Regions from separate parts of the Homo sapiens genome. Here regions 2, 3, 4 and 5 are each linked to region 1. The links come from fine-mapping of genetic effects on gene expression. A gene starts in region 1. Each other region holds a variant in brackets. All regions are shown on one strand. Distances are between the middles of the regions.

Region 1 (6,144 bases):
AGGGGGCAGTGTTCTAGGCAGGACAGAGGTGATATTAGCGAATAGTACACATGAATGTGTGGAAACGACAAAGAACATACTACATTGAAGAACTGAAAGCATTTCTGGGTGGAGGCTCCTAGCAAATGATGGGGCAGAGAGCTAGCTGCAAACCCCATGGAAGCACAATTATAAACCATCAAAGGGTTTTTAAGAATACATATACAGGCCAGGCGTGTTAGCTCATGCCTGTAATCCCAGCACTTCGGGAGGCTGAGGTGAGCGCATCACTTGAGGTCAGCAGTTCCAGAGCAGCCTGTCCATCATGGTGAAACTCTGTCTCTACTAAAATTCAAAAATTAGCCCGGTGTGTTGGCGCAAGGCTGTAGTCCCAGATACTCGGGAGGTTGAGCCAGAAGAATCACTTGAGCCTGGGAGGCAGAGGTTGCAGTGAGCTGAGGTCATGCCACTGCACTCCAGCCTGGGTGACAGAGCGAGACTCCCTCTCAAAAAAAAAAAAAAAAAAAAAAAAAAAAGAATACTTATCTGGGCCCATTGTGCTGGCTCATACCTGTAATCCCATCACTTTGGGAGGCCTATGCAGGAGGATTGCTTGAGCTTAGGAGTTCAAGACCAACCTAGGCAATATTATCAGACCCTATTGCTACAAAAAATTAAAAAATTAGCCAAGTGTGGTGGCACACGCCTGTAGTCCCAGCTACTTGGGAGGCTAAGCTGGGAGGATTGCTTGGGCCTGGAAGTTGAAGCTGCAGTGAGCCATGATCGTGCCACTGCACTCCAGCCTGAGTGACAGAGAAAGACACTGTTTAAAAACAACACAACGCAAAACAAAACAAAAACACATATATGACCAGATGTACAGTCTTGAAAGATAAATAGGGCTGTGGTATTCAAACTTGGAGTTTAAGGGCCGGGTGCGGTGGGTCATACCCGTAATGCCAGCAGTTTGGGATGCTGAGGAGGGTGGATGGCTTGAGGCCAGGAGTTTGAGACCAGCCTGGCCAACATGGCGAAAACTTGTCTGTACTAAAAACACAATAATTAGCCGTGTGTGGTGGCTTGTGCCTGTAATCTCAGCTACTCGGTAGGCTGAGGCACAAGAATGACTTGAACCGAGGATGAGGAGGTTGCAGTAAGCTGAGATTGCGCCACAGCACTCCAGCCTGGACGAGAGAGCAAGACTCTGTCTCAAAAAAAAAAAAAAAAATAGTGGATACAGTGGCAGGATAAGAAGGCAAAGACATGAACATATTGAATGTCTGAGCACAGGGTTTAGCATGAGTGGGAGAGGAATAAGCCCAAAGGGTGGCAGATGCACTTAGGGGAAAATGTAGGTGTCAAGGGGATAGAGGCCCATGAAGGTAAAATCAGGGAGAAGGGAAAGGAGGAAATTATTAAAAAGAACCAAGGAGAGAGTTGAGGGCAGGGAAGTTAAGAGGTTATGTGAGGAAACTTGGAGTTTGAAGATTTTGAAGTGGAAGGGGAAAAGCAATGTAGAGTTTAATTCAGATCACTGAACTGAGCTCACGGAAATTGAAGCCGGGTGCTGGATGCAGGGCATTTTATGTGACTTAGAAGTTGTCAAGGGCCGGCGTGGTGGTTCACACCTGTAATCCCAGCACTTTGGAAGGCCGAGGTGGGTGGATCACGAGGTCAGCAGTTCAAGACCAGCGTGATCAACATGGTGAAACCCCGTCTCTACTGAAAATACAAAAAAAAAATTAGCTGGGCATGGTGGCTGGCGCCTGTAATCTCAGCGACTTGGGATGCTGAGGCAGTAGAATCACTCGAAACCGGAAGGCAGAGGTTGCAGTGAGCTGAGATTGTGCCACTGCACTCTAGCCTGGACAATAAGAGCAAAACTCGTCTTTAAAAAAAAAAAAAAAAAAGTTGTCATGGAGAAGAACATGAGCTAGGCGCCTCAAGTCTCCAGTGAGTCAAGATCATGGCAAGGAGGCCAAAAGATGTAAACTCACTTGGTGTGTTACCTCCCTTCTGTACTTTGAGATGCCAGCATAACACTGTAGGAGAAATGTTTAGCTGGGGACCATTCAAAATCAAGAAGCTGACTAGAAAATAACCACAAACCTTACGTTGTATTCTGGCAAAAAGTCTAGAGGCCCTCTCAAGGTTGGCATCTAAAATACATACAGAGGCTGGGCGCAATGGCTCATGCCTGTAATCCGAGCACTTTGGGAGGCTGAAGCAGGAGGATCACTTGAGCCCAGGAGTTCAAGAACTGCCTGAGCAACATAGGGAGACTGTGTCTCTACAAAAAAATTTAAAATTAGCCAGATGTGGTGGCACACACCTGTAGTCCCAGCTACTCCACAGGCTGAGACAGGAGGATGGCTTGAGCCTGGGAGGTCAAGGCTGCAGTGATCCATGATCGAGCTGCTGCACTCACTGGCAGTCTGGATTTCAGAGCAAGACTGTGTCTCAAAAACAAACAAACAAACAAAAACAGAATTTCCTTATTTAGCCTCTAAATTTAAAATCTTAATTTACAATTGTTATTCCACAGAACACTAGGCTCAGGAACAAGTGTGGAGTTGTTTTTTTATTTTTGGTAAAGACCAAAACCAGAAAGTTTAATGACCAAATCAGTCATTTTTACCATTTGAAAATTCTTACACTTCATATATTAACATCAATGAAATAATTTTAACAATTCAAGCTAGCAATCTGCTTTTATGCTGTACACTTTATAACATAAAAATTATCCTACTCCGTTTAAATCCAATTTTCTACCATCTTCTATTCTACAAACCCAAAATAACTGTATCACTGAGTAATCCTGGCCCATAAAGTAATCATACAGTTATGCTGTTCTGTGCATAAGTAGGAGATATTAAACAGTGCTTCGAAGCCCAGCACGGTGGCTCATGCCTGTAATTTCAGCACTTTTGGGAGGCGAAGGAGGGCGGATCACCTGGGGTCGGGAGTTCCAGACCAGCCTGGCCAACATGGTGAAACCCCGTCTCTACTAAAAATACAAAAATTGGCCGGGCTAGCGCGTCGTGGTGGACGCCTGTAATCCCAGCCACTCGAGAGGCTGAGGCAAGAGAATCTCTTAGATGGAGAATCTCCTAGATGTTTTTCATCTCTTAGATGGAAAACAAATCTGGAGTTTTGGTGAAAAGGACATTGATTGTGGCTGGAGGAGATAATTATAATAATAGCGTAGTTATCTTTCTGTGGGTTTCACGTCCAGAACATTTAAAACATATAAAACCCTTGCTGGGTCAGGGTTTTAGTCATCTTTGCAGCTCCCACGGACGGCATCCACCAAAGCGCTTTCCAAGTACTTCGTTGCTCAATAAACGTTTGTTGGAGAAACCGGTGCATAAAGGTGAAATAATAAAACGTGGACGGATTTCGGAAAGAGAAGGAACCCCGGAGCTCACGCTTTGCACGATCACCCCCACCAGCCCCAGGAGTTTTCGCGTAAATCGAAGCCCGGGGAGTGAGTCGCAGGCAGCGGCCCCCGGGGAAGGTGTTTCAGGCCGGCCCGGGTGGAGAGTGCTTCCCGCCGCCTCCCCGACCCTCTGCTGTTCCTCTCAAACTTCTTCTCAACCTTCCACGCCGGGGGGACGCCCAGGGACCGCCCATTCCCCGGGACCGCCCGTCTCCCCGCCCCCGCCTCCGCCCCCGCCCCCGACAAACTGAGCAATACCCAGAGAGGATGGAAATGGCGAAGAGGCCTGGCGCCTGCCCGCTCCCGCGCATGCTCCCTGACTTCACCAAGGTCACGCTGCAGCCCGCAGGAATGAAAATCCACTTCTCCGCATTTTCGAGGTGACCTGGAAGCGGTTCAACTGCTCTGGCTTCTCAGAAGAGGAGGGGACCGGGCGGTAACGAGGAGCCAAGGGGAGGAGACTGCTCGCAAAACCCGGAAAAGCTTTCCCGATCCACTCTGCCAGCCTCCGTGCGCCTCCAGACATGCGCAGTAGCCTCCCCCGCGGTGGCGGCGGCGGCGGCGGTGGCTGCCGTGGCGGCTGAGAGTCCAGAGCCGGACGTTCCGGCCGCTTCGGGCTGGCGGCTGGAGAGCGCTCGGGTCATGTCTGCCCAGGGGGACTGCGAGTTCCTGGTGCAGCGAGCCCGGGAGTTGGTGCCGCAAGACCTGTGGGCAGCCAAGGCGTGGCTGATCACGGCCCGCAGCCTCTACCCGGCAGACTTTAACATCCAGGTGAGGTCCCGGCTGTGCATGCGGCCGCTCTGCGTGGAGGTGCGCGCTCCCGTCGCCCGGGCTGCCCTGGCCCAGAGCTGCGCCTGCCTGGGGGCTGCCGCCTCCTGCCCGGCCCCCTGCTTTCTCCCCTCCCACCCCCTCCTCTCTCCCCTCCCATCCTACACCTTGCTCCTACACCTTTCACCCGCCTTGCTCCTACACCTTCCAGGAGCCCTCTCCCCAGCACTTGAGAGACGGCCGATCCCGCTTGAGGTCGGGTGTGCTTAGGTCCCTGGGGCTCAGCGTGCCATCTGGCCTAGACAGCACATGATCGCCACTAGCAAAAGGCCATTCGCTCCTTCATTCATCATAATGGCAGCAGTTTGTTCAGGGCCTGCGACTTTGGAAATATTATCCTACTTAATCCTGGGAGCCTGAGATTGCAGGTGAACCCCAGGGTCACACTCTAAGCCCAATGGCAAGTCTGCCATGTATGTGGCGCTGTGTCACCAGGCGGAGCTTCACTCTCAGGCCCTCCCTTCCTGCAGGAGGGCCAACGAGCGATGCTGGATGAGCTGGGAGCCTTCTGGGCAGGGGTGAGTGACCAGGGTGCCTGATGTGTGTTGCAGTATGAGATGTACACCATCGAGCGGAATGCAGAGCGGACCGCCACCGCCGGGAGGCTGCTGTACGACATGTGAGTGGGACGCTTGACATCACTTTTACTGCACTGAATCTCTCCATGAGGTTTTGTTTCTCTCTGCAGAAGTGGGAGTTGGGGGAAGATCTTCAAGTTCATCTATATCTTCGATACCTAAAGCAAACCTAGTAAGGAGTCCAGGCCTGCCATAAATTGCTGACATGGCTTTTGCAGAAGAGTTTAATTATTATTCTTATGTTTTATCCTTGTTAAAACTTCTGTTTCATAATTTATTCTAGAAATAATATGTGCTCATTACAAAAATTCAAACACTACTTGTTATAGAGAACAAAAAGTGAAAGTGCATCCTAAACTGAACCAGAGTTAAGTTTTGTAGGCAGTATATCTATACATGTATGCATAATACATAAATAAGGTTTTGGGGGGAAGGGGTTACAAAAGTGAGAAGACCATACTACCTTTGCCCTGCAGCATGTTTCCTTTACTCACTCTCATGGACCCCTTCCCATATCAGTATGTAGAGATCCACTTCATTCCTTTTCATGCCTGTGTAGTATTTCGTAGACACTCTCTTCTTGGTAGACATTTAAATAGATAGTTTTAAATTATTTGAAATTATATTCAGTGTGTCAACAATTTTGTAGTCATATTTTGGTGTTTTTCTGTGGAATAGATTCTAAGACATTTTCATAGTCAAAGTTTATGCGCATTTGAAAATTTGATACGCTATGAAATTACTCTCCAAAATGTGCGATCCCAGTCTACATTACCACCAATGGTGTATAAAGAGTGTGTTTTCCCATACCCTTCCCAACACTGGATATTATTAGTCTCTTTTTAGTTCTTGTCACTGTGATAGGAGAAAATGGTATCTTGCTATTTTAAAAAAAAATTTGTACTACTCATACTGTTAATAAGATTCAGTATTGTTTCAACTGTTCTCTTTGGCTGTGTGTATTCTGTGATTTGCCTTTGCCTATTTTTTCTTTCAAATAGTTTGTTTTATTCTTGTTGACTTTTAGAAGCTCTTTCTATGTTATGGTTACTTGTCTTTTCACCTATAAAACCCACTAAAGACTTATGTGAGTACTCTCATTTTTATAAATCAAGTAATTCTTATTTTTACATTTTTATTTTGGTTTGTTTTGGCACGTCTAAGCATTCACTTGGAATAAAGGAAACTTTTTCACCAAATGCTAACGTTTTTTCTTTTGGATACTGTATAGACTTTGACATTTTAATTTAATGTATTTATTTTAAAAATAGGTTTGTGAATTTCCCAGACCAGCCGGTGGTGTGGAGAGAAATCAGCATT
Region 2 (6,256 bases), 38 kb after region 1:
GGAGCACCAGCTGCGGGGGCCATGGTGGGAGCTCACTTGGGTGATTGGCTCATTCAGGTCTCCTCCCTCCTTGCTGCTGCCTCTGGAGGGTCTGCTGGCCGGGCTGGACATGAGCTCTTTGTAGCCAGTGTGGACTGGACCCATTTGGCCCTAAGTAACTGAATTGTGTACCAGTCAGCAGTAGGGATGCATAACACCAGAGCTTCATTGATTCAAAGGCAAAGCAGGTGGCATTTTACTGAACAATTAAATGTTTGAAGTAACCTTTTATAGAGTGAGAAAGATGTCTGTCTAGTTTTAAGTCTTTCTGAAGAGAAATGGGCTGGAATGTTTGGTTGGTTGCAGCTATTCTTGTGTTCTTTTTAAAATATCTGAAATTATACTTAGATATGGGGCAGGCTTTATTCCTACCCAAGTAGCAGCGATCAGCGATGCTGGTGCTAACCCCTGGTCTTTGTCTGTTTCCCTATTGCTGACCTCAGGCACCACACTGTAACTCGAGGCATCACCAAAGGCGTGAAGGAGGACTTTCGCCTGGCCATGGAGCGCCAGGTCTCCCGCTGTGGAGAGAATCTGATGGTGGTTCTGCACAGGTTCTGCATTAATGAGAAGATCTTGCTCCTTCAGACTCTGACCTGAGTGGAGACCTTTCCACCAGACACAGCTCGGGCCTGTGTAATTGTAGGAGAAGACACTCAGCAGTGATTGCCATGGCACAGAGCCGTGGTCATTGTTGCTGTTACAAAGAAGAAAACCATCTGAGTTCTAACTCCTTGGTTGCTTAAAAGTAGTTCCCAAGAGTCTGAGAAGCTATTTCTATTTTTAAGAGTCATTTTTTGTAATTTTTGTAAAACAAAAGTACCAATCTGTTTTGTAAATAAAAATCATCCTAAAATTTGAAGTTTTTAAAAATTTAATTCTTATGAGTTTTTGAACAGGGGTGCATTTTTCTTCTTTTCTAAGCATATAGCAAGGGGGAAAATCCAGCATAATTGAATTGAGTAATGAATTTTACTAATATAGATACTTACTTAAAAGACATATGTCTTCCATGACCTTAAGATTTTATTTTCCATAGTTAGGCTTTGGTCGGTATTGCATATCAACATAATATTAGACGTTTTCATTCAGGTGATCTCTTTTTTAGAAACAAGGTCTCACTCTACACCCAGGTTAGAGTGCAGTGGCACGATCATAACTCACTGCAGCCTCAAACTCCTGGCCTCAAGCAATCCTCCTGCCTCCAACCTCCCAAGTAGCTGGGACTACAAGTATACACCACCATGCTCAGCTATTTTTTTTTAATTTTATGTAGAGACAGGGTCTCACTATGTTACTCAGGTGGGTCTCAAACATCTGGCCTCCAGCAATCCCACCTCAGCCTCCCAAAGTGTTGGTATAACAGGCATGAGCCACCATACCTGGCCTCATTCGGGAAGTTTTAACACCAAAAACATTTATGTAAAAATGAATTTGAGCCTGACCTCTCCCACTGATGGTCCCCTGAAGGAGAGGTGCTCAGGGCTGCTGAAAAGCCCAGGACAGGAAGTGGAGGTGAGAGGCAAGGTGTGGCAGAGCAGCCTCCCCATTGCTGTCTGGCTCCAGGAAGTCCCTGCTGCTGTGCCAGGGTGGCCCAGTGGTTTCTACCCAGGGGCTTTGGAGCCAGGTGGCCTTGTGTGGCTTTGCATCCTGGCTTTGCCCTGCCCTTAC[T/C]TGCTATGTGACCGTGGACAAGGTAACTTCTGTGTGCCTCAAGCTCTTTGTCTGAAAACGGAGCTGAGTGGTCCTCCCCTTGCTGGTTATTGGGAGGATGAAATGTTGCTCCACGTGAAATGCTTGGGAGAGGGCCTTGAGTGTAGTTAGTGCTGGCCAACATTAGCTATTAGGCTAATTTTTTTTTTTAATTAGGCTAATTTTATTTTCCTTTTGCTCTTCATGAAATTATACAGAAGACAAACATCAATAAAATTTGTTTCAAGGGAGTATTTAAGAATGAAAGAGCTAAGAAGTTTTGCAGTTACTCTGCATAAAAGGTCTTAGAAATCTTTTCTAAATAAAGATCCTTTTTATAGCTATATTAAAATCAATAAGATGGTTTAAATAAGAGACATCTGATCTCAAAAATATCAACTAGCTTGTTTTGCAGTGTTTATTAGTGTAATATGAGTTTATTACAAATATATAAGCTATCCTTTTTTTAGTGATGGGATGTGCTGCCACCTAAAAGCTCCCAAATTAAACACTCTCACCTTTAGGTTTTCTAACACTATTAGGGTTCTTCAGAGGGACCGAACTATTGGATAGATGTATATATGAAAGGGAGTTTGTTAAGGAGAATTAGCTGACATGATCAGAAGGTGAAGCTCCACAGCAGGCCGTCTGCGAGCCAAGGAAGAAGGAAGCCCACAGTGGCTCAGTCCAAGTCCAAAAGCCTCAAAAGCAGGGAGGCCAACAGTGCATCCTTCAGTCTGTGGCCAAAGGCCCGAGAGCCCATGACCAACCACTGGTGTAAGTCCAAGAGTCCAAAGGCCAAAGAACCTGGAGTCTGATGTCCAAAGGCAGGAAGCATCCAGCACGGGAGAAAGATGAAAGCCAGAAGACTCAGCAAGTCAGCTTATCCCACCTTCCGCCTACTTTGTTCTACCCTCGCTGGTGTCTACCCAGCTTGAGGGTGGGTCTTTCTCTCCCGATCCATTGACTCAAATGTTAATCTCCTCTGGCAAAAGCCTCACAGACACACCCAGAAACAATACCAGCTATCTAGGCATCCTTCAATGCAATCAAGTTGACACCTAATATTAACCATCACGAACAGCTTCCTCAGCTCAGTGTTTCAGGAGCAGTGCACATCACAACAAGACTTTCTAATACCCCAAAATGTAGGTACTAGCTAAAAGAGGATTAACCATCTTTTTTAAAATTCAGTGGTGCCACTTCTCTGTGAAGAGGCTGCAGGGAAAGGGCCACAGAATAAAATGGAAACTCAGACTGAATTTGCAGAAAAAGAAGGAGCTGGGAGAAAACTGCAGACCTCTCAGCACATAATGGCTCCATCCAAATCGCTGCACTAAGAGACCTGACCAAACTCTAGCTTGGCTACCAGCAGCTTAAGGCCATGACCCCAGTCCCGCTTAAAATGCCTGCCTGAGAAAGCTCCATGCTACCAAAATTTATTCCAGACCAAACCAGGTGATAGGCAGATAGGCCCCTGGACTCTCGCTTAGAATAGTTACTTTAAAAAGGTTGCAATTACACATCCTTTGCCCTTTGAGATGCAAAGTGACCCCCCAGAGCTGTTTTCTCAAGAACCCAAGAGCTGGCTTTTTGAAATCCATTCAGGGAATCAACTCTTGCTCCCAGTCCCTGTGACAGGGAACATTTGAGCTGGGTTTGGACCACTGTAACATTTAGACTCCTACAGGAGATGTACTGTTGCCATGGCAATCCTGCTCCCTAACAAAGGAACTGCAGGCTCAGGCTTTTGGTGTCTGCTTGTCTGAGTAACGAATGAGGCAAAGCTACCATCGGGATGACCTTAAGGCAGGCAGAAGATACAGCGGTGCATAGGAGGCTTGACTGACCTTGGATATCTCGTCCCAGACATTCCCCTCACCTGGCAGCGGGGTGCACCCTGCGTGCACAGCATCCTCCTCCTACGCTTAGGTCCATCTGGATGTAGAGTCCCTCCTGGGAAAAGGGGAACTGCCAGAAAGAGACACCTGCCCCTCACTCGTCACCAAATGCAGGTTCCTGGGGAAAATGATGCTAGTAAGACCTGCCTCTGGGTTTCCTAAGCAGCAGAACAGCTCCCTCGCTGCAATCCATTGAAAGTCAGTCCTGGACACCAGGGTTTGTCCACCCATATGGAGGCTCCAAGCATCTATGCATCCATCCCTCTCGATCCCTAGGACTTCGGACCCGGAGCCACACTGTGGGGCGGCAGTGATCAGGTACCCTCCTGGCAACCCGACTCAATGCCCCGCCTCCTCGCCACCCTGCCAGGATGCACCCTGGGCTGGGACAAAGTTGGGGAGCGGTGGGGATAGCAGAGATGGATGGGTAGCCCCCTGCATCCTCAGGGTTGACCAGCAGTCTGCCAGGCTCGGTCTCTCTTCTGCAGTCCATCAACCTCCAAAGACTCACATCGATAGGCCCCTGCCTGCCTTAGGCCAGGGGTCCCCATTAGACTGTAGCCAAGGGACAGCCCATTGAGACAGTGGACTAGCTCAAGGCCTCGAGCTGCTGGGTCGAGACCAGTTGTCCGGCTGCCACCTTAGACGAGAGGCTAGGGCCAACCTAGAGAGGGGCCCACGGGGACCCAGACTGGCAGCGGGGGTAAAACAGAGAATCATTCCTCAGGTGGGGTGGGGCCCAAGGTTTATGGGAAAAATGTTATTGTTATTAGAAATATTTATCTGTAAATATGAAATCACAGAAATTGTAATACAGTCTTCTATAACATTAAATATAAATTGTAGGGGTTATAAATGATAAATCCATGTGAAAAACAAATAAACGTGAACAGTTATTTTTATTTTTTTAGAGACAGGGTCTTGCTCTGTCACCCAGAGTAACAGTCACCCTGGAGTGCAGTGCCGCGACCATGGCTCATGGCAGCCTCCTGGGCTTAAGCGATCCTCCTGCCTCAGCTTCTGAGTAGCTGGGACCACTGGCACATGCCATTATGCCCGACTGATTTTAAAATGTTTTATAGAGACAGGGTTTCACCATGTTGCCCAGGCTGGTCTCCAACTCCTGGATTCAAGAGAACTGGCCACCTCTACCTCTTAAAGTGCTAGGATTATAGGTGTGGGCCACTATGCCAGGCCTGAAGTTATTTTTGTCACTGTCACTCATCATGATTGTAACTATCGCTGTTATGATTATTCGTTGTCGTAGCTAGAGCAATAAACACGCTGAGTACAGCTCTCTGTCCACAAAAGGGTTCCACCAATGGGAGGCAACGGAGGAAGTGTTCAGGGCTCAGAATGTCCAATCTTGCAGGGCACCACTGTCCCCCACCCATAGCTGGCCCTGGCCCAGGGCCCTCTGGAAAAAAAAAAAAGTCAAGGCCTCCTGGACTGTGGGGGTCGGCCCCCTCCAACCCATTCCAACCAGGGAGCTCCAAGGTGGAGGCCAGGCACACGCTGGGCACTCTCCGCCAGCCTTGGGCCAAGAAATGTGACCCAACGTGAGTGGAGCCAAGGCCGGGTATCCTCACCACCTGTGATGGCTTCTGTGGACACAGACTTTCGCATCCCTTGCCAGGAACAAGCTGGTGGCTGCTTTTATGTAATCCATGAAGGTCACCCAGATGGCCAGACCTGAGCCTGGTGAAATGGGGGTGGGAATGGGCCGGGGTTGGTGCGAAAGGGCAGCTAGAGGGTTAAAAACTGAGACTGAGTCCTCAGCTGGAAGGTGCAGGATGCAGAGTCAGGTGTGAGAGTGACTCACGAGGTTTATAGTAATGAGAATATTTTTGTTATTTATAAACAATTGTAATTAATACATATATAATTATATAAGTACTATAAATATATAACTTTATTATACATAAACTATATATAAAATACAAAATATTTATCTATAAATTATATAATACATAAATATGTTATATAAATTTTGTTTTTGTTTTTGGGAGAGTCTTGCTCTGTCACCCAAGCTGGAGTTCAGTGGCATAGTCTCGGCTCACTACAACCTCTGCCTCCTGGGTTCAAGTGATTCCCCTGTCTCAGCCTCTCAAGTAGCTGGGACCACAGGCACATGCTACCACACCCAGCTAATGTTGGTATTTTTAGTGGAGGCGGGATTTTGCCATGTTGGCCAGGCTGGTATCAAACTCCTGACCTCAAGTGATCTGCCCGCCTCAGCCTCCTAAAGGGCTAGGAATACAGGTGTGAGCCACTGTGCCCCGCCCTGTATGTCATATAAATTCTGAAATGTAAATTAAAGTATAGATTATAAGAATTTTATAAATATTAATAAGTATATAAAAGTAATTATTGTCATTGCTATTTATCGTTACTGTAATTATTACTATGATTACCAATAGGAGTTGTTATAGAAATACTGAATAAAGTTTCTCTGTCTAGGAAAGGTATTCAGTTGACCAGAGATGATAAAGAGGGTTTCCAGGCCAATGAATTGTCTCAATTCACTGGTGAGCACAGGAAGGCCGTGAGCAGCCACCAGCCTGGAGAGCCTATCCACATCTCCACAGTGATCTGCTCCAAATGCTCAGGACTGAATCCAGACCCTC
Region 3 (4,000 bases), 26 kb after region 1:
CACAAAGTGATTCTAAAATGTAAGTGGAAATATTACATAATCTAGAATAGTCAAAACAGGTTTTAAAAAGACACAATTAAGTGACTTATACTACATAATAACAAGACTTAATATACAAGCATAATAATCAAGACAGAGTTGACAAAATATCGACATAAGAATGGAGAATCCAGAAATAGACCTGCATAGATTTGATCAAATGATTTTCGATGAAGGCATCAAAGTAATTCAATAAGGAAAGGAAAGACTTTTCAACCAATGGTGCTGGAGCAGATTACGTTGTATATGTTTGAAGTTTTCTATAACAAATGGTCAAAAAAAAAAATCTAGCCCAGACTTCTTCAAAAATTAAGTATTTCTGCAGAACAGAAAGTTTCTGGTTGAAACTCATGACCCTGTAGATGAAGACTCACAGCTTGAGAAACACTAATCTAAGGTGTACAACTAGGAGGCAAGGCATATAATTAGGTAATGACATGTTCAACTTGGTAATGCTAAGTTAGTTTCCAGAGTGGCTGCATGACTTTATATACCTTCCAGAAACTGATTAGGTGGATAGGACTGACCTAGCTGACTTCAAGACTTATTTTAAAGCTTTAGTAATTTAAGACAGGGTAGTATTGGCACAGGGGTTGACCAGTGGAACAGCATAGAAAACTGAGAAATAGATGACATTAAAATTCAGTGGGGGAAGAATGAATTTATTCAATAAGTGGTACTAGAACAATTTATTATCCAAATGTAAAAAACGACAATAAAAAAATGAGATCCCCTCCTTCACACTACATAGACATCCTTTAAATTTTAAGGTTGAAATGTGACAGCAAAAACTCCAAAACTTCCAAACTTTTAGAAGAAAATTTAAAAATAGAAAGATTAGTAAATTTGATCACATTAAAATTAAAATACCAACAAAGGCTGTTACAATCAAAGTGAAAAGATAAGGCATAGGCTGCCAGAAAATTGTCTATCACACAAAATCAACAAAAACTTAGTATCTAGAGTTTTGAAAGAGCTCCTTCAGACCAATAGGAAGCAATTATCCAATCCCCATAGAAAAATAGGCAAAGGACAGGAAGAACAGATTCACAGGAGCAGAAATCCAAATGGCCAAAAACTATTTGGAAAGATTCTCAACCTTTTGTCATATGGGCAATTCAGAATAAAACAATAAACTACCATTTCACACACATCAGAATGCAAAAATTGAAGAGGATGTGAAGGAACACAGTGCCACGTGCTTCTGGAAGGTGTATAAAGTCATGCAACCATTCTGGAAACCAACTTCCCATGACCAAGTTGAACATGTCATTACCTAATTATTAAATGTACCTCGCGTCCTAGTTGTATACCTTAGATGAGTGTTTTTCAAGCTGTGAGTTTTCATTTACAGGGTCATGAGTTTCAACCAGAAATTTTCTTTTTTAATGAGATAGAATTCAATAATATTTTAAGACGACATCTCAGACAAGAAGAGAGACTGTTATTCCATGCACCTTTTGTTTTGGATCTATCACATTATGTAAGTATGTGTGTACAGGATCCCATGTGAAAAATATTTATTTCTTGCTATCTTGCCTCTGAGTAGAGAAAGATAACAGACATAAAGAACACAGACCAGAAAGGAAAGATTGGGATTTTGCTTTGAAAGCTATTGCTTAAAGTTATTTCCACAAATGTACAAGAATATGTAAGAATGTATATTTATCATTGTAATAGTGAAAAATTGGAAATGTCAATATCCTCTGTAAAAGGAATGCAGACAACAGAATACTATATAACACTGAAAATGAATGAACTAGAGCTATGTGTATTGATATTGACCAGTTGATAAATCTGAACCACATGAAGTTGAGTAAAAAAAGCAATTTGCAGAAGGATACATACAAAATGACACCATTTATATAGTAGACTGAAAGCATGCAGAACAATCCATTGTTGTTTACGTGTGTAACAGTCATAGGAATGACAACCACTGCCTTCAGAATTATGGCGACCTCTGCGATGGAAGAGAATGGGATCAGAGAAGGATACACAATAGGCTTTAACTGATTTTGTGATTATTGATATTAGAAATGTTTAAAATTAAGATATTAACATTTCATGAAGCTGAGTGGTGAGCACACCAGTGTTATATTCTCTCTATATAACTTTGTGTATATTTGAAATGTTTTCTCATAAAAAGTATTTAAGCAAGTTTAGGAAAGAATATTGATAAATGAAATCTAGAGACCATCAAAAGCCAATTTCACCATCACAAAGTATAATTGTGTTTCAAATATAATTGAAATTGTGTGAC[T/G]GTTGCATATTCTCTTTTTTGTTGTTGTTAATGAAAGCATCTTAAACAGTTGCCTTTCAAAGCTGTTATCTTTGATAATAACATACATTAACCTAACATTGTGGACTTCTGTTAGGTTCGGATCTGAAGCTCCTGCCTTGTACCAGCAAGGCTATCATGCCATACTGCCTCCATTTAATGTTAGCCTGTTTTAAGGTAAGCTTAAAGTTGATTAGCTTGAAAAAAAATGTAATTTCAAATATTATTCTCATGACTCGAGAACTTGAGAACCTTGCTAAGGATTGTTATTTTAGTACTTTTGAGGGCAGGCCCAAACAGTTAGAAAAGCACATGGGCTACTAATTAACAAATCTATATTAAATAATGACTGCGCTAGGCAAAGAGAAGTAGGAAGTTCTCCCCGTCCTCAAAAAGTGTAATAGTGGGACAGATATGCAAATAACCTTGACTGTTGTAGTGTTTGGTAAATATTTTATCAATATAAATATATTAGCTACAAAGAAAGGGAATACAAATTGCGGTTAGGTTCATGGAGGGATGATGAGTTTGTCATTGTAAAGATGTGCTAGATTAAGCATGTTAGGTGTTGAGATCAACACCAGTAACAGCCCAACAGTTGGGAAAGTTCCGGGACTTGAAAGAACGCCAAGGCCCTTGGCTACAGGTAGAGCAGAGCCTTAGAGCAGGGAGGCTTCATTGTTTCTGGAAGGTTTGTTGGCCAGAGAGTAAAACATTGGGTCTCCACTTCAGTGCAGTAACTCCCACTTAACTCATCATCCATATCACTTTTTTAGGGCAACAAAAACAATTTAAAGTGTGATTTTATGCATAACCGCTCATTTGAAACAAAAACTGTTTTGACCATTTCTTTAGTTCACACTTCTGCTTATTTCCTTGTGGCTCACCACCTTTCCTTCTCTGCAATCCCATGTTCTCTACAAACAGTTCTCTCCTGGATGGCCTCTTGCCCACCTACTCCCATCTGCTCCCTTTCAAAGAAATCTTCAGATTTATTTCTCCATTACACAGGATGAATCAGAGTTCTCTGCCCCTGATTCTCATATGCAAAAGCTTCAGGCCCACCCATGTCCAACTGCCATCTACACACTGCCAGCAGCTGTGCAGAGGGAGCCTGAGGCTTCTTTGGTTAGAATCCACCCTCCTTAGAAGGCAGCTGTGATGTTTACCAGCCATTTCGTTGTGCCTTTGTTTCCTTCTTACTCTAATGACGTTTATCACACATTTGCATATACAGCATATTTTTGGAAAGTGATGTTTGCTGTATTTCAGATTACCCTGTGACTTCCTTTTCCTTCTGTCTTGTATAAATCTTTGTCTTGCAGCTTAGAGCTTTCACAGACAACAGAGACGACATGGCATTGGGGCATGTGATTGTGTTGCTTCAGCAAGAGTGGCCACGGGGCGAGAATCTTTTCCTGAAAGCTGTCAATAAAATTTGCCAACAAGGAAATTTCCAATATGAGAATTTTTTCAATTACGTTACAAGTATCCTTTTTTCTTGTTTAAGCATAACACATTCTGATTTTCTTTAGAATGAATACATGATAGAAAAAGAATGAACCATTCTGGATAGAAATAATGATTTTTACTATTTTGCAGCGAAGAGAAGGAATGGGGATTAAAACTGGGGCTGTGGCAGTTGATCTTCTGAAAGTCGTGAAAGACATGATTCAAGGAATT
Region 4 (6,661 bases), 27 kb before region 1:
AATGAATTATAATTAATATTTAGTTTAACCTTTAAAGGTAAACAACAAATGGAAAATATACACATAAAGGACATAAGACAAAGGTGACTATCTTTGCTTGAAAAGGAACCCATATCGAACTCGTAGCCCCTCCATCGCTATCAAAAAGAACGGATAGGGTTTAATTCCTTATCTTAGAGAAAGGTCTGGAGATGTAGATATACATACCCCTCCACTCCTGGATTAAGGAGATGCAGTAAAAGAGAGAAAGTTCTGTTTTTTATCTGCATTTTGTATTGTTTTAATTTTAAAATAAGTGTGTATTACTTTTGGGATTTAAAAAAGACATACATTTTTAGGATAAAATGCAGCATCATAACAGAGAAAAAAATTCATTAAAACAGGAAATAGTACTAGTAAACATGGATAAATAACTAAACTCAGTCATAATCAAAGAGAAACTAACGAAATACATGTTGTCATTTTGCTTCTATCAAATTAGAAGAATAGGAAACACAGTCGCTAATGCTGTTATGTAATGATGACGACAGGATCAATCAGTATCCCTTTGGTAAGGCAATTTAGCAATACATTCAAGAGCTCCAAAACAATTCATAGCCTTGACCCAATCATTTCATTTCTGATAAATCCATTTTAAGAAGTAATTTATTCTAAGGAATAATATATTAAAAACGTATAATAATAATAATAATATAAATTCATTTCTGATAAATCGATTTTAGAAGTAATTTATTCTAAGTAATTTATTCTAAGGAATAATAATATAAAAAGAGCTCCACATGAAAAGGTAGAAATAATAAATGTCCAACAACATGGAAATGATTATATATGAATCATACATGCATTCAGTGAAATATTAGACAACCAATAAAAGCATGCTTAAAAAGCTATCTGATAATGTAATATAAAAATATATTATTTCCAATAATATATAAATCACAGAAAAATTTTAAACAAAAATTAGACTTCTAATTGTCTATACAGTACAACAATAACTATATACTTTTACAAAATACCTATATAGACTGGGCGCGGTGGCTCATGCCTGTAATCCCAGCACTTTCGGAGGCCGAGGCGGGTGGATCGCCTGAGGTCCGGAGTTCGAGACCAGCCTGACCAACATGGAGAAACCCCATCTCTACTAAAAATACAAAATTAGCCAGGCGTGGTGGCACATGCCTGTAATCCCAGCTCCTTGGGAGGCTGAGGCAGGAGAATGGCTTGAACCCAGGAAGCGGAGGTTGCTGTGAGCCGAGATCACGCCATTGCACTCCAGCCTGGGCAACAAGAGTGAAACTCTGTCTCAAAAAAAAAAAAATGCCTATATTCAAAAGGAAAGAATGGATCACAAATTAATATGCCAAATGTTACCCCAAAATGGTTGTGTTTACAGGCATGTAAGCTTTTACTACAGGGCTGACACATAGGAAGTATTAATAAGAGCAGCTATTATTTTTGCTTTGTTATTATGAATGGCAATACATATTTATTTTTTATTTAATGATCTGGTATGACTTTAAAATAAAAACTAATCCTCTTGAAAGAATTAGAAACTAAATTTGAATGGGGGTGACTTCTGGGTATTGCAATTACGGGTAATTTGTACTTTCTTGCTTGTCTTTTTCTGAATTTTATACAAGAAACATATATTCCTTATATAAATGTTAAGGGGGGGTTATTTACTTATGTATTTATTATGATTATTATGAGATGGAGTTTCGCTCTTGTCGCCCAGGCTGGAGTGCGATGGTGCAATCTCGGCTCACTGCAACCTCCGCCTCCCAGGTTCAAGAGATTCTCCTGCCTCAGCCTCCTAAGGAGCTGGGATTACAGGAGCCCACCACCACACCTAGCTAATTGTTTTTATTTTTAGTAGAGACAGGGTTTCACCATGTTGTCCAGGCTCGTCTCAAACTCCTGACCTCATGTGATCTACCCGCCTTGGCCTCCCAAAGTGCTGGGATAACAGGCATGAGCCACAATGCCCTGCCAGGGGTTCTTAAATGTTTAACTTTTAACATCTGTATTTAACACATGGTTCTTACTGATCTGAACACATTACTGCTCTGAAGTTCACTCAGAGTCAATTTATTGAAATCATATTCACTACAATATGTTCATATCTATCAAGATAAGTGACCTGGAAAGCAGGACTTACACTTTTTACTCTTTATACCTCTGTAAAGTTTTACTTTCTTATACTGAACATGTATAAATGTATTATCTATATAATTTTTTAAATAATTTAAAGGAAAACTTGGAGAAAAACAAACTGTTTTGTCCTCAGACTATAATCAGGGCACTTAATACTGTTGTGACAAAAGTAATACAGTAACTATCAACTAGTAATCTCAAACTAGTTATTTCAAACAGATACGTTGCTTTTACGAAGGAGATGACTGTATTTGGAAGGTAGTTCAGAAAAAGAGAAAAAAGCCAACCAGCCAGTTATTTCTCCATTTTGTTGTCTTGGTAACTAAGGCAGCTGCGTGAGCTGTTTTCTATTATTTTCCAATCCTGTTCCAGAAAGAAAATTTTTAAATAGGAAAGCAGATATACCGAGAATGTAATTAATCTCCCTGAAAACGGACCATTACAAATAATGTTACTGGACACAAGGATAAAAAAGAACCCAAACAAAAGTACTAGAAAAATATAAACCTAATGCTAAAGGGTGTTACACATTTGGTTCCCTTTACAGAGTTAATAGGAAACGATTTTTCAATAGGCTCAAAATTTCTACAGCTGGAATCTAAAAGGCCCAGGCAAGTGTGGCTTACTCAGAAACCAGTCAGAGTGGAGAAACGCTTCGTCGGGCCAAAATCACTAATACAAAGAAATAAAACTTCCCTGGTGAAAGCTCCAAAGAGCAAAGAGCATGACTTCATGGAATAAATCGTTCTAAATGGAGTCTGTTTTCAACAGCCACATGTAAAGTGAAATTGATTCTACCATAAGTAACTCAAGAAAACAAAGATTTGGAGCAACAGGAACTATATTACAGAGCTATATTAGTATAACATATCACAAAGCTTTTGCAT[G/A]TATGTAACTTTCTAAAACAGGTTGCTTACAATCAACCACATACATCCCACCAATATCTGCAGAGTAGAAATGTAAAGAGCTATAGTTGGGTTGGTATTTGCTCTTAGTTGGGTTGGTATTTGCCTAGATTCAAGTCAGCTCTACTTGACACAAGTGAAAATGTTAATAAATTGTATTAAATTTGAGAGCATAAAAAAGAACAAGAATCCTGTTTTCTATATTTTTCTCTCTTACTCTACACATTGCCCAGCACAGATGAATGATTTATCTTTTAGTGAATCAATAAACCAGCTGGGAAAATGTCAGAGATATCAGTTAGTGATAGAAAAAGATACACCCTCAGATTCAAGCAATTAACACAATAAGTAAGCAGCATTATTTTCTGGGTGGGCCAGCTTCCAAAAACCATTTTTCAAGTTAAAAGAAAAACTCAAGTAATCCTAAAAACCATACTATTTGAGTTACTCTCTACACAGGACAGAAAAAAAAATGAGTTTAATTATAGACCCTGTTTTTCATATTCAAAAATAAAGTTTTTAGTTATTTTAGTTATTACAAAAACAGACTGTGACACAAAAATTAGCCGGGCGTGGTGACGCATGCCTGTAATCCCAGCTACTCGGGAGGCTGGGGCAGGAGGATCCCTTCAACCAGGGACGTGGAGGTTGCAGTTAGCCAAGATTGCACCACTGCACTCCAGCCTGGGCAACAGAGAGAGACTCTAAAAAAAAAAAAAAAAATTGTGCTCATTGAACACCCCTCTTAAGGAGAAGGTGGGGGAGGACGACAAAGAGAAGAAAAGAAAATTAAGTCCAGCAAAAAGAGGAAAGAAAGTAAACCCAAGACCTAGTCTCCCAGCGACAGTCACTGTGGATAATCTTAGCATAGGCATGTCCAGATTTTTCTCTTTGCTTGTACAGATTTTCCCCCAAATATGTGAGTATGACTTTTTTTTTCACTTAAAAATGTAGATGGTGTCTTCCTTTCTGCCTTTATTTTCCTCTTTTCCTTCTTCTTTTTCTTCCTGAAAAACTGAGTCCAAGATCATTAAATCATTAAGTGGAACCAAGTGAGGGGGGCACCCTGTGGCTGAGTGTGAGGGTAGGGTAGGGAGGGCAGGCTGTGGCAGCCCAGCATGGGGTACATCAGAGACAGCAGGGGGAGGAGTAGAAGAGGAGTGGAGAGTGACATTGGCAGCCTCGTGCAAAGTGTCAGAATTCAAGTGGGGCCAGGCACGGTGGCTCATGTCTATAATTCCAGCACCCTGGGAGGCAGAAGTGGGAGAATTGCTTTAGCCCAGGAGTTCGAGATAAGCTTGGGCAATATAGTGAGACCTCTGCCTCTACAAAAAATTAAAAATTAAAAAAATTATCCAGGCGTGGTGGCACACACCCGTAGCCCCAACCACTTCGGAGGGTGAAGTAGGAGGATCACTTGAGCCTGGAAGGCAGAGGTTGCAGTGAGCTGAGATCTGAGATGGTGCCACTGTACTACAGCCTGGGCAACAGGGTGAGACCCTGCCTCAAAAAAAAAAAGAAAGAAACTAACTAAAAAATTAGAAAAATTAAAAAAATAATCCAACTGAGTGAGGAGGACACCACCATGAGGGGCAGCCTGCTGCGTGGCGGCTCCCAAACAGGAATTTAAAGACTAAGCAGGATGAGAAGAGCATCTGTGAGGGGGTGGGCACTGGTGGTGATGGTGAGGCAGGAGAATAGGGTCTGGGGGCAGGGAACCTACGGCTGATTCACACTGACTTCCTATAACTAAACCAAAAGGAAAACCCTAACTTTCCATGCCCAAGTAACAAAAGGACCGGAGGCTACTCCGTTTGCAAACCACCCCTTTTCTCTGTGGCAGATGAAAATTTCAAAGTATCTCTGATTGGTCCCCTCCCACAACCAATCGGGCTGGTCACAGGCCAAACCTTCATTTGCATAGAAGTATAACTTTGTAACTGTACTTCAGCCTCTGGTCGGTCACTTTCTGCAACCAATCGGACATTTGCATAGCGTGTAACTTTGTGACTTCACTTCAGCCTCTGATTGGTCCCCCTACAACCAATCAGACTGATCAAGGGCCACTACTTCATTTACATTGGGTGTACACCACGTAACCAATGGAAAATCTCTAGAGGGTATTTAAACCCCAGAAAATTCTGTAACCAGGCTCTTAAGCCGCTTGCTCAGCCCACTTTTACCCTGCGGAGTGTAGTTTTGTTTTCAATAAATCTGTTTTTGTTGCTTCATTCTTTCCTTGCTTTGTTTGTGTGTTTTGTTAAAGACACCAAGAACCTGGACACCCTCCACCAGTAACAATGGGAGCTAATCTACATACATATGGGGGATTCAACTAATAATATATTGAGAACCAGGTGGTTTCTCACTGTTAGAGAAGGAAGGTATTAATATGGGAAAAAAGAAGACAGGTGTGAAAGTTGTGATTGTAGGTAGAAACTAGAGAGATCAGTGTGAATTCATGGATGTACATGTATATTACACATTCTACACCAAGGAACCAGGGCTCCTTGAGAAATAGCTAATACTAGGGCTAGAGCAAGGAAAGGACATTATATTTGTTTATTGAGGCTACCGTAACAAATTATCACAAGCTTCATGGTTTAAAATAACAGAAATGTTTTCTCTACAGTTCTACAGTCCAGAAGTCCAAAATCAGTGTGTCAGCAGGGCTGAGCTCCCTCTGGAGGCTCTAGGGGAGAATCCTTCCTTGTTTTTTCCAGGCTGGAGAACCCTAATGCAGATATCAATGTTAATTTCTTGATATTTATAGTTGTATGTTGATTAGGTAGGAGAATGACCTACACCTAACCACAGTACACAAGTATTCAGGGCCATCGGGACATCATGTTGGCAACTTCGTTTAAAATGGTTAAGGAAAAGAAATCTTTACTGTTTTTGCAATGTTTTTATAAGTTTATTTCAAAATAAAGGGTTTTTTTTAATTCAACAATGATTTTGGAAGAAAAAAAGCATATGGTGCCCAGGCATGGTGGTTCACATCTGTAATCCCAACAATTTGGGAGGCCACGGTGGGTGGACCTCTTGAGCCCAAAAGTTCCAGACCAGCTTGGGCAACATGAAGAAACCCCATCTCTACAAAATAATACAATAAATTAGCAGAGCGTGGTGGCACACACTTGTAGTCCCAGTTACTCAGGAGGCTGAGGGGGACGCTCACCTGAGACTGGGAAGTCGAGGCTGCAGTGAGCTGTGATTGCACCTCTGCACTTCAGCCTGGGAAATGTAGGGAAACCCTTGTCTGTAAATAAATACGTCATTTAAAAGCATATTGTAAACACTTTTCACATCAGCAGTTACATTCATGTAACATCATTTCAAATGTTTTTACACACTTGTATAGATCATCACTTATTTAACCAAATCTTCTATTGTTAGACATTTACATTGTTTCCAACTTTGCATTATTTCAAACAGCAGTTTATTGAACATTATTATAGTACCATAGCTGAGTATATTCTTAATTATTTTCTTCACATAAATTTCTAGAAGTGCAAATGCGGCATCAAAAGGCATTCATTTGACACTCTGTATACACGTATTTCCAAACTACCTTTTGAAATGCTAAATTCCCTTGCCAC
Region 5 (6,661 bases), 160 kb after region 1:
TAGTCTCTCCTGGTTTCTCTGCTACTGCTCTTGCTTCTCATTAGTCTATTAATAATGAATCAGGTGAACTTTCTAGAGTAGATCGTAGCATCCCATTCCTCTACCCAGTACTTCAACTCTCTGTATTTTTCATCCTGCCTAACAACAAAAAAACTATAAATTATTGTTTGCATATGCATGTGTGTGTTTGTACGCATACTGTTGTTATTCACCCTGTTTTACATTTAGCCCATTTCTAGCTAATTTTTGTATATGGTACTATCTGTGGTTAGAGGTGTTTTTTGTTTTTGTTGTGGTAGTTGTGGCAATAATTTCTTTTTTACATAGTCAAATTATTCCAGCAATTTGTTGAAAAAAATATCCTCTCTCCATCGAATTACATTGGCAACTCTGTTCTCTGGTCCTCACAGATCAGTTCCTCATGATGACTGATTTTTCAGGAAATGTGGGCTTTGAACAGACTTCACTCAGAAAGCCTGTGCTAGAGTTCCAGCATAGGGACCTCATTCCTTTATCAGGGCTCAGATCCTTCATCCTCTTGTAACAGGCTCTGGACCTACAATGGAAATCTGCTGACATGAGATTAAGAGAAGGTATCTGGAATGAAGGCACTTCTCCGACTCCACCCATTCCGCTGACAGGGCTCCAACAACTCCAGGGTCTTTTAATCAAGAGATTGCTAAGTCAAAGACAATGCCTCCTCAGCCAAATGTGAAACACAAAGGTTTCATAATCAAAATGAAATTCCTTCTTAGCACACAACTGGAGAAAGCTCTAAAGGAGATAAGAATCAATAATAAGATTTATAAAATTTGGCAGCATAAGCTGAGGATGATGATATTTCCCTTAATCTTTATGTTTCCAGATGGCACTGGTGTGGCAGCAGAAATCACATCATGGATGAGACGCTAAGAATTGGCACAAGATCTGCACCTTAGATCCAAAGACTATGTGATCCAGGCCCTCAAATACATCTTTTCTAATCCTCATAATAATTCTATGAGGTTGGCACCATTGCCCCATTACAAATGGGGAGAGGTTATGTGCAAAGTCCAAGCTCACATCACCACAATGGGATAGCCTGAGGATGCAATCCCAACACCATTTCCTGAGTCATGCTGTGCTAGGCCAAAATTTGGATTCCTAAAGTCCCTTAATGGTGATCAAATGGTCCAAGTTGCAAGTTAAGGAGAGTAGGTCGGTAAAGACAATAAATCACTGTACTCCCCAGACTTCTCCAACTAATCCCAGTTATTCTTCATGCATTTAACATAAAGCTCTTCGCCGGACAACCTGGCCTCTTACTCTTTCCCTAAACAAAGTTTTTTTCTGTAGTCTCTATATTTTTGCTCAAATGTCCCTCTCTGCCTATAATGACCACCCTATTTTCTAAGTACCTTTAATGACTACTTTCACTCTTCTGAGCTCCCTTCTGAAATCTTTTTTTCTTCCATTGCTATGTTACCACTACGATCTACCTGTCAGCACAAGTGTTGCATGTACTTGCTCCGATGTTGTGTTACTAAAAATAATTACTACCAGTTTTTCTGCATCAACTATGTGCCAGGCACTGTGTGAAGTGCTTGGTTAACATTTGTTTCATTCTCACAATAGCCTCCTGAAATAGGTATTTTTATCTTCTCTTTATTGATGAATATAACGAGATGCAGGGAAATGAATTAATTTAGAAATCAAAGCTAGTAAGTGGGTGAGTTGGCTTTTAAACCAATGTGTGACTTCAAAGTTGGAGTTGTTGATTTTTCCCCCCTTTGAGTTTTAAGCCTGTTTGAACATATCTGGGGCACTTGGAGATGGTGCACCAGAAATACATTGGCAGAAAAAATTTTTCCCAAGAGAAAAGAGAAGCAAAACACATAAAAGTGACTCAAGGATGGAGGCCCAAGACAGAGAGGAGAGGCAACTTTGACTTCCACCATGTGTCTGTTTCTATTGTCTGGCAGCCCAGCCTATGGGAGTTGCCTGAGGTTTAGGGAGAAGCAACTATGATAATCTGTGAATTGCTAGATTTGGCATCCATGGTGTGGGGCATGGTGGTCCAACATTTTCCCAGCAAGCTTCTAATGTGCTGGGGTCTATGGTGGCTTTTGTGAGCTGCACTGACTTCAGTGCGGACTCCACAGGTCAGGGAACCTTGACACCCCCTGTGCTTCGGCAACTCGTTTGTGGTGGGTTGTGACAAGTGATATTAGTAACAGCCGGATGGAAAAAGGAAGGAAAATGTAAGGTCAATGCAAATTTTTATCAAGTACCTACGATGTGCGGGCAATTTTGCAAGGTGCTAGTGTCATGCAGCCTGTGGCATATTTGAGCAGACTTATGGGAGTATATAGAAAAGCTAGGAGTGGGCCGGGCGCGGTGGCTCACGCCTGTAATCCCAGCACTTTGGGAGGCCGAGACGGGCGGATCACGAGGTCAGGAGATCGAGACCATCCTGGCTAACACGGTGAAACCCCGTCTCTACTAAAAATACAAAAATTAGCCGGGCATGGTGGCGCGCGCCTGTAGTCCCAGCTACACGGGAGGCTGAGGCAGGAGAATGGCGTGAACCCGGGAGGCGGAGCTTGCAGTGAGTCGAGATCGCGCCACTGCACTCCAGCCTGGGCGACAGAGCGAAACTCCGTCTCAAAAAAAAAAAAAAAAAAAAAAAAAAAAAAAAGCTAGGAGTGACAAAGGTCTTCATACACTTGTCTTTTTGTAATTCATCTGCCCAGAGTGGGCAAATTTTGGTAATTCATGCACAGGCACTATACTGTACATGCTAACCCTGACTTTACTCACTGCTCTGTTTCTCACCCAAGTTTGTTATGAATGATTTAAAGATGCTGAAGATACCTGGATATAAAGAAGGGGGACGAAGAAGCTAGAAAAATGCTGTTGCAATATTATTTTGGCCCTACATTTCCCCCAGCATTCTGTTGCCCAGAAATTGATTTGCATCACTGTTTGTCTTGCCTTCTCAGTTCCTTTGGCAATAACGATTATATTATCCATCTACTTTTCTTTTAAAAATTCAAAGTATAAAAATAAGTGTATTTAATAATTTGTTGAACAAATGCATACATAAATGAATAAAGACTGTCATGAATAAGTACTTTTAAACTCCAACAAGCAGCATAAATGAATGAAACTTCTCATTTTTCTCTCCATGTCTCCACTTCTGTAGGTTTCTACAAGCAGAGGGTGTAATCAAAATTGACCAGTACACTCATTCTTCCTGGGAACAGAACATGTAGGATGCTCTAAAAATACCTTCTTTGATTCATTAAACTGAGTTTCTCAAGGATGTAACGAAAAGGAACACAATTTGTTCTAGAAAGAGATTTTCCTATATGTCCTAAGAAGGAGAAAACAACCAGGAGACAAAAAGGAACTGAGATATTGACCAAAATAGATCATTAGGAAAGAGCGGGTGATTTTGAGTCAGGTTTTTTTAAAAAAAGCAACAGAAAACAGAAGTTAGAAAGAAGG[T/A]AGGAAGATACTCATGTCTTGATATGCTATCATTTTAATAACTTAATATTGATTTTAAAGTAAAAACCAACCTTATTTTTCCATTGTATGGGCCAAAATCATGTGAGTTTGTGTCACACATTGAGGGCAATGACAGTGCTAGTTAAATAAAGAGCTCGTTGATGTGCCTGAGTAACACTGTGAACTCAGCATTTTGATAACGATGTAAGGGCTAGAAAATTAGGCTTTTAGATGTCCCCAGGTCAGAGGTGAGCCTGGGTTGTTAAATGAGGCCGTAAGATTCCTCTGCCGCCACATGTGATTTGACTAAGATGACAATGATAAGTGTCCCTTCAGAGGTATGGAGCCTTCTGAGACCAGGTCACTCATTATTTCAAGGTGACCTCAAGTCCAAGGGCACATTTTAACTTCATGTACAACAAACAGCATCACGCTGCTCCTTGATGTTTACTGGTTCATTAAAGGGTAGGATGTAGGGTGTGAGGAAGTGAGGGTGGTACATTTTATTCACACCAGTAAAAGAAGAAATGCTCAAGTTATATTGTATAATTTCTATGAAAAAAAGTAACAGAAATCAGCACACCATTTTTAGAAGGCTCACCACGTGTGAATATCTTTCCAAAAAGTGATTTGTCAAAATAATTGACGTAACTATAGTGTTTCTCACATTTTCTCCTAAGTCACATGCCTAAAAGCTCAGCAGAAAAATTAATGGAAGAAAATGTAACCCATTTAAGATAAGCTGAAATATAAGCAAAGTCAAAAGATAACAAATTGATCCCCCCAAAATTGATATATAAAAAGTAAAAAGTAAGTTTTGGCTGAACGCGGTAGCTCACGCCTGTAATCCCAGCACTTTGGGAGGCCGAGGCGGGCAGATCACCTGAAGTCGAGAGTTCGAGACCAGCCTGACCAATGTGAAGAAACCCCATCTCTACTAAAAATACAAAATTAGCTGGGCGTGGTGGTGAATGCCTGTAATCCTAGCTACTCGGGAGGCTGAGGGAAGAGAATCCCTTGAACCCAGGAGGCGGAGGTTGTGGTGAGTCAAGATCACGCCATTGCACTCCAGCCTACGCAACAGGAGCAAAAACTCTGTCTCAAAAAATAGTAATTGTGAGTTTCTAAAAATCAATAAAATCACACACACACACACACACACACACACAAAGGAAAAAAGAGCAAAAGATGGAACACAAATCTAAACATAAAGTGGTCCTTAAACATATGAAAGGTAGTCATTGTCATGCATAATAAGAGATAGAATTTAATAATACATGAAAATGCCACTTTTTACCAATTTAGATTCAGAAAATCTCAAAGTTTAAAAATACACCTTGTTTGCAACTCTAAAGGAAAATAAGTCTTACATTGCAGATAGTAATGTATATTGGTGCAATCCTTGTAGAAGACAATTGGTAATACCTTTCAAAATTATAAATACATATCCTTTTCTAATGGTTCTGCTCTTGGGAATTTACCTTGAAGATACACATCTGCAAAAGGATATTACCATAGTCTCAGTCATTACAATTTTGCTTGTAATAGCAAATTAGTGAACAACACATATATGTCAGTTATGATTATTTTGCAACCATAAAAAATGAAGATAAAGATGGATTTGTCAAAATTTGATATTTATTCATGATAAAAAAAACTCTCAGAAAATTAGGAATAGAAGGATATGTCCTCAACCTGATGAAGGCCATCCACAAAAAACCTACATATAAAACTATATTTAATGGTAAAAGATTAAATTATTTTCCTAAGATCAGGAAAAAAGCTAAGATAGTTGCCTTACCAGACCTATTCAATACTATACTGGAGGTTCCATTCGGTGCAACAAGACAAGATAAAAAAATAAAAGGCATCCATATTGGAAAGGAAGAGGTATAACTGTCTTTGTTTCCATACATGATCATCTATGTAAACAATCTGATGAAATAAATAAAAATGATCTACAAAGTTGCCCATGGGATGTAATGAACAATTGATAGCCTTTTCAACAAATGGTGCTAGAATAACTGGATATCTCTATGTAAAAACAAACAAAAACAACAACAAAACCCAACCACCTCTATTTATAGCTTGCACCATATATACAAAATTACTAGAGCTGAGCCTAAATATAAAACCTAAAACTATAAAACCTCTAAAAGAAAACAGAAGAAAATCTTTGTGACATTGGGTTAATCATAGCCTTCTTGAGATATCAAAGGCACAAACCATAAAAGAAAATACTGATAACAAAGACTTAATCAAAATTTAAAACATTTGCTCTTCCAAAGATAGTGTTAAGAAGATAAAAGGTCAAGTCAGACTGAGTAAAATATTTGCAAAAAAAAAAAAAAATCTGATCAAGGTCTTATATTCAAAACTATTAAAGAACCCTTAAAACTCAATATTAAACAACCCAATCCTTAAAAGATTTCAAAATTTAAACTAAAATTAAAATGGACAAGTAAGCATACAAATAGATTGCAAATAATAGAAAAACACATATCATGCAAACAAATACCACAAGAAAGCTGATGTATTATTCTAATATCAGACAAAATAGACTTTAAAGCAAAAGAAAATGTTACTGGAGACAAAGAGAAACATTTTCTAATAAGATTGTCAATCTGCCACGAAAATATAATAATTATAAATTTATATGCAACTAATAACAAAGCACCAAATACATGAAGCAAAAATGGACAGAAATGAAAACAATTCAACAATAATTGTAAGAGATCTCAATATCGCATTTTGAACAATGTATGGAAAAACTAGACAAGACAGCAACAAGGTAACAGAAGCCGTGAAGAATAAACCAAGTATATCTAACAGATATCTATAGTACACTTCACCCAGTAACAACACAATACACAATTTTCTCGAGTTCACATGGACCATTGTCCAGGGTAGGTCATATGCTAGACTATAAAATGCTTCATAAATTTAAAGGATAGAAATAATATAAAATATGTTCTCCAACCACAATGGAATACAATTAAAAATCAATAGCAGCAAAAAATTAGGGAAACTCATAAATATGAAGAAATTAAACAGCATATTCCTAAATAACCAATGGATCAAAGAAGAAATCAAAAGGGAAATCAGAAAATAATTTGAGATGAATGAAAATGAAGACACAACATACTCAAATTTATGAGATGCAGCTAAAGCA

Alleles and levels. Positions count from the first base shown, and alleles are read on the strand shown. Sizes are in standard deviations (SD) of each study's normalised expression. Not every link is listed here.
With allele C in place of T in region 2, the expression in cerebral cortex of the gene that starts at base 3,939 in region 1 is lower (moderate effect, 0.43 SD a copy in GTEx).
In carriers of allele G in region 4, the expression in prefrontal cortex of the gene that starts at base 3,939 in region 1 tends to be higher than with A alone (moderate effect, 0.44 SD a copy in BrainSeq).
For the expression in monocytes of the gene that starts at base 3,939 in region 1, T is the low allele of the variant in region 5 and A is the other (large effect, 0.93 SD a copy in Quach 2016).

What was found. PIP is the estimated chance that this variant, and not a neighbour inherited with it, causes the effect.
Region 2: its variant is the best candidate, but not a certain one, in a credible set for the expression of INTS10 in cerebral cortex (GTEx, PIP 0.77).
Region 3: its variant is the best candidate, but not a certain one, in a credible set for the expression of INTS10 in whole blood (INTERVAL, PIP 0.77).
Region 4: its variant is the best candidate, but not a certain one, in a credible set for the expression of INTS10 in prefrontal cortex (BrainSeq, PIP 0.89).
Region 5: its variant is the best candidate, but not a certain one, in a credible set for the expression of INTS10 in monocytes (Quach 2016, PIP 0.70).

What each region holds. Positions count from the first base shown.
Region 1 is chr8:19,813,478-19,819,621 of GRCh38, forward strand. It overlaps INTS10 (integrator complex subunit 10), which reads left to right and starts at 3,939. Exons shown (of 17, transcript NM_018142.4): 1 at 3,939-4,189; 2 at 4,798-4,865; 3 at 6,096-6,144. The coding sequence starts at 4,061. RefSeq lists silencers at 3,520-3,659, 4,180-4,309 and enhancers at 3,810-3,889, 3,930-3,989, 4,490-4,579, 4,790-4,879.
Region 2 is chr8:19,851,167-19,857,422 of GRCh38, forward strand. It overlaps INTS10 (integrator complex subunit 10), which reads left to right. Exons shown (of 17, transcript NM_018142.4): 17 at 483-901. The coding sequence ends at 639. It overlaps LOC124901901 (a long non-coding RNA gene), which reads left to right and starts at 2,731. Exons shown (of 2, transcript XR_007060843.1): 1 at 2,731-3,947; 2 at 6,090-6,256. RefSeq lists an enhancer at 5,148-5,647. The variant T/C (reference allele first, on the strand shown) is at 1,711.
Region 3 is chr8:19,840,434-19,844,433 of GRCh38, forward strand. It overlaps INTS10 (integrator complex subunit 10), which reads left to right. Exons shown (of 17, transcript NM_018142.4): 14 at 2,415-2,494; 15 at 3,643-3,805. Among named protein-coding and RNA genes, the nearest start is that of INTS10, 25 kb to the left of the region's middle. RefSeq lists an enhancer at 3,496-3,595. The variant T/G (reference allele first, on the strand shown) is at 2,300.
Region 4 is chr8:19,786,445-19,793,105 of GRCh38, forward strand. No RefSeq gene overlaps it. Among named protein-coding and RNA genes, the nearest start is that of INTS10, 28 kb to the right of the region's middle. RefSeq lists a silencer at 2,421-2,621. The variant G/A (reference allele first, on the strand shown) is at 3,042.
Region 5 is chr8:19,972,192-19,978,852 of GRCh38, forward strand. No RefSeq gene overlaps it. Among named protein-coding and RNA genes, the nearest start is that of LPL, 36 kb to the left of the region's middle. RefSeq lists a silencer at 3,654-3,854. The variant T/A (reference allele first, on the strand shown) is at 3,490.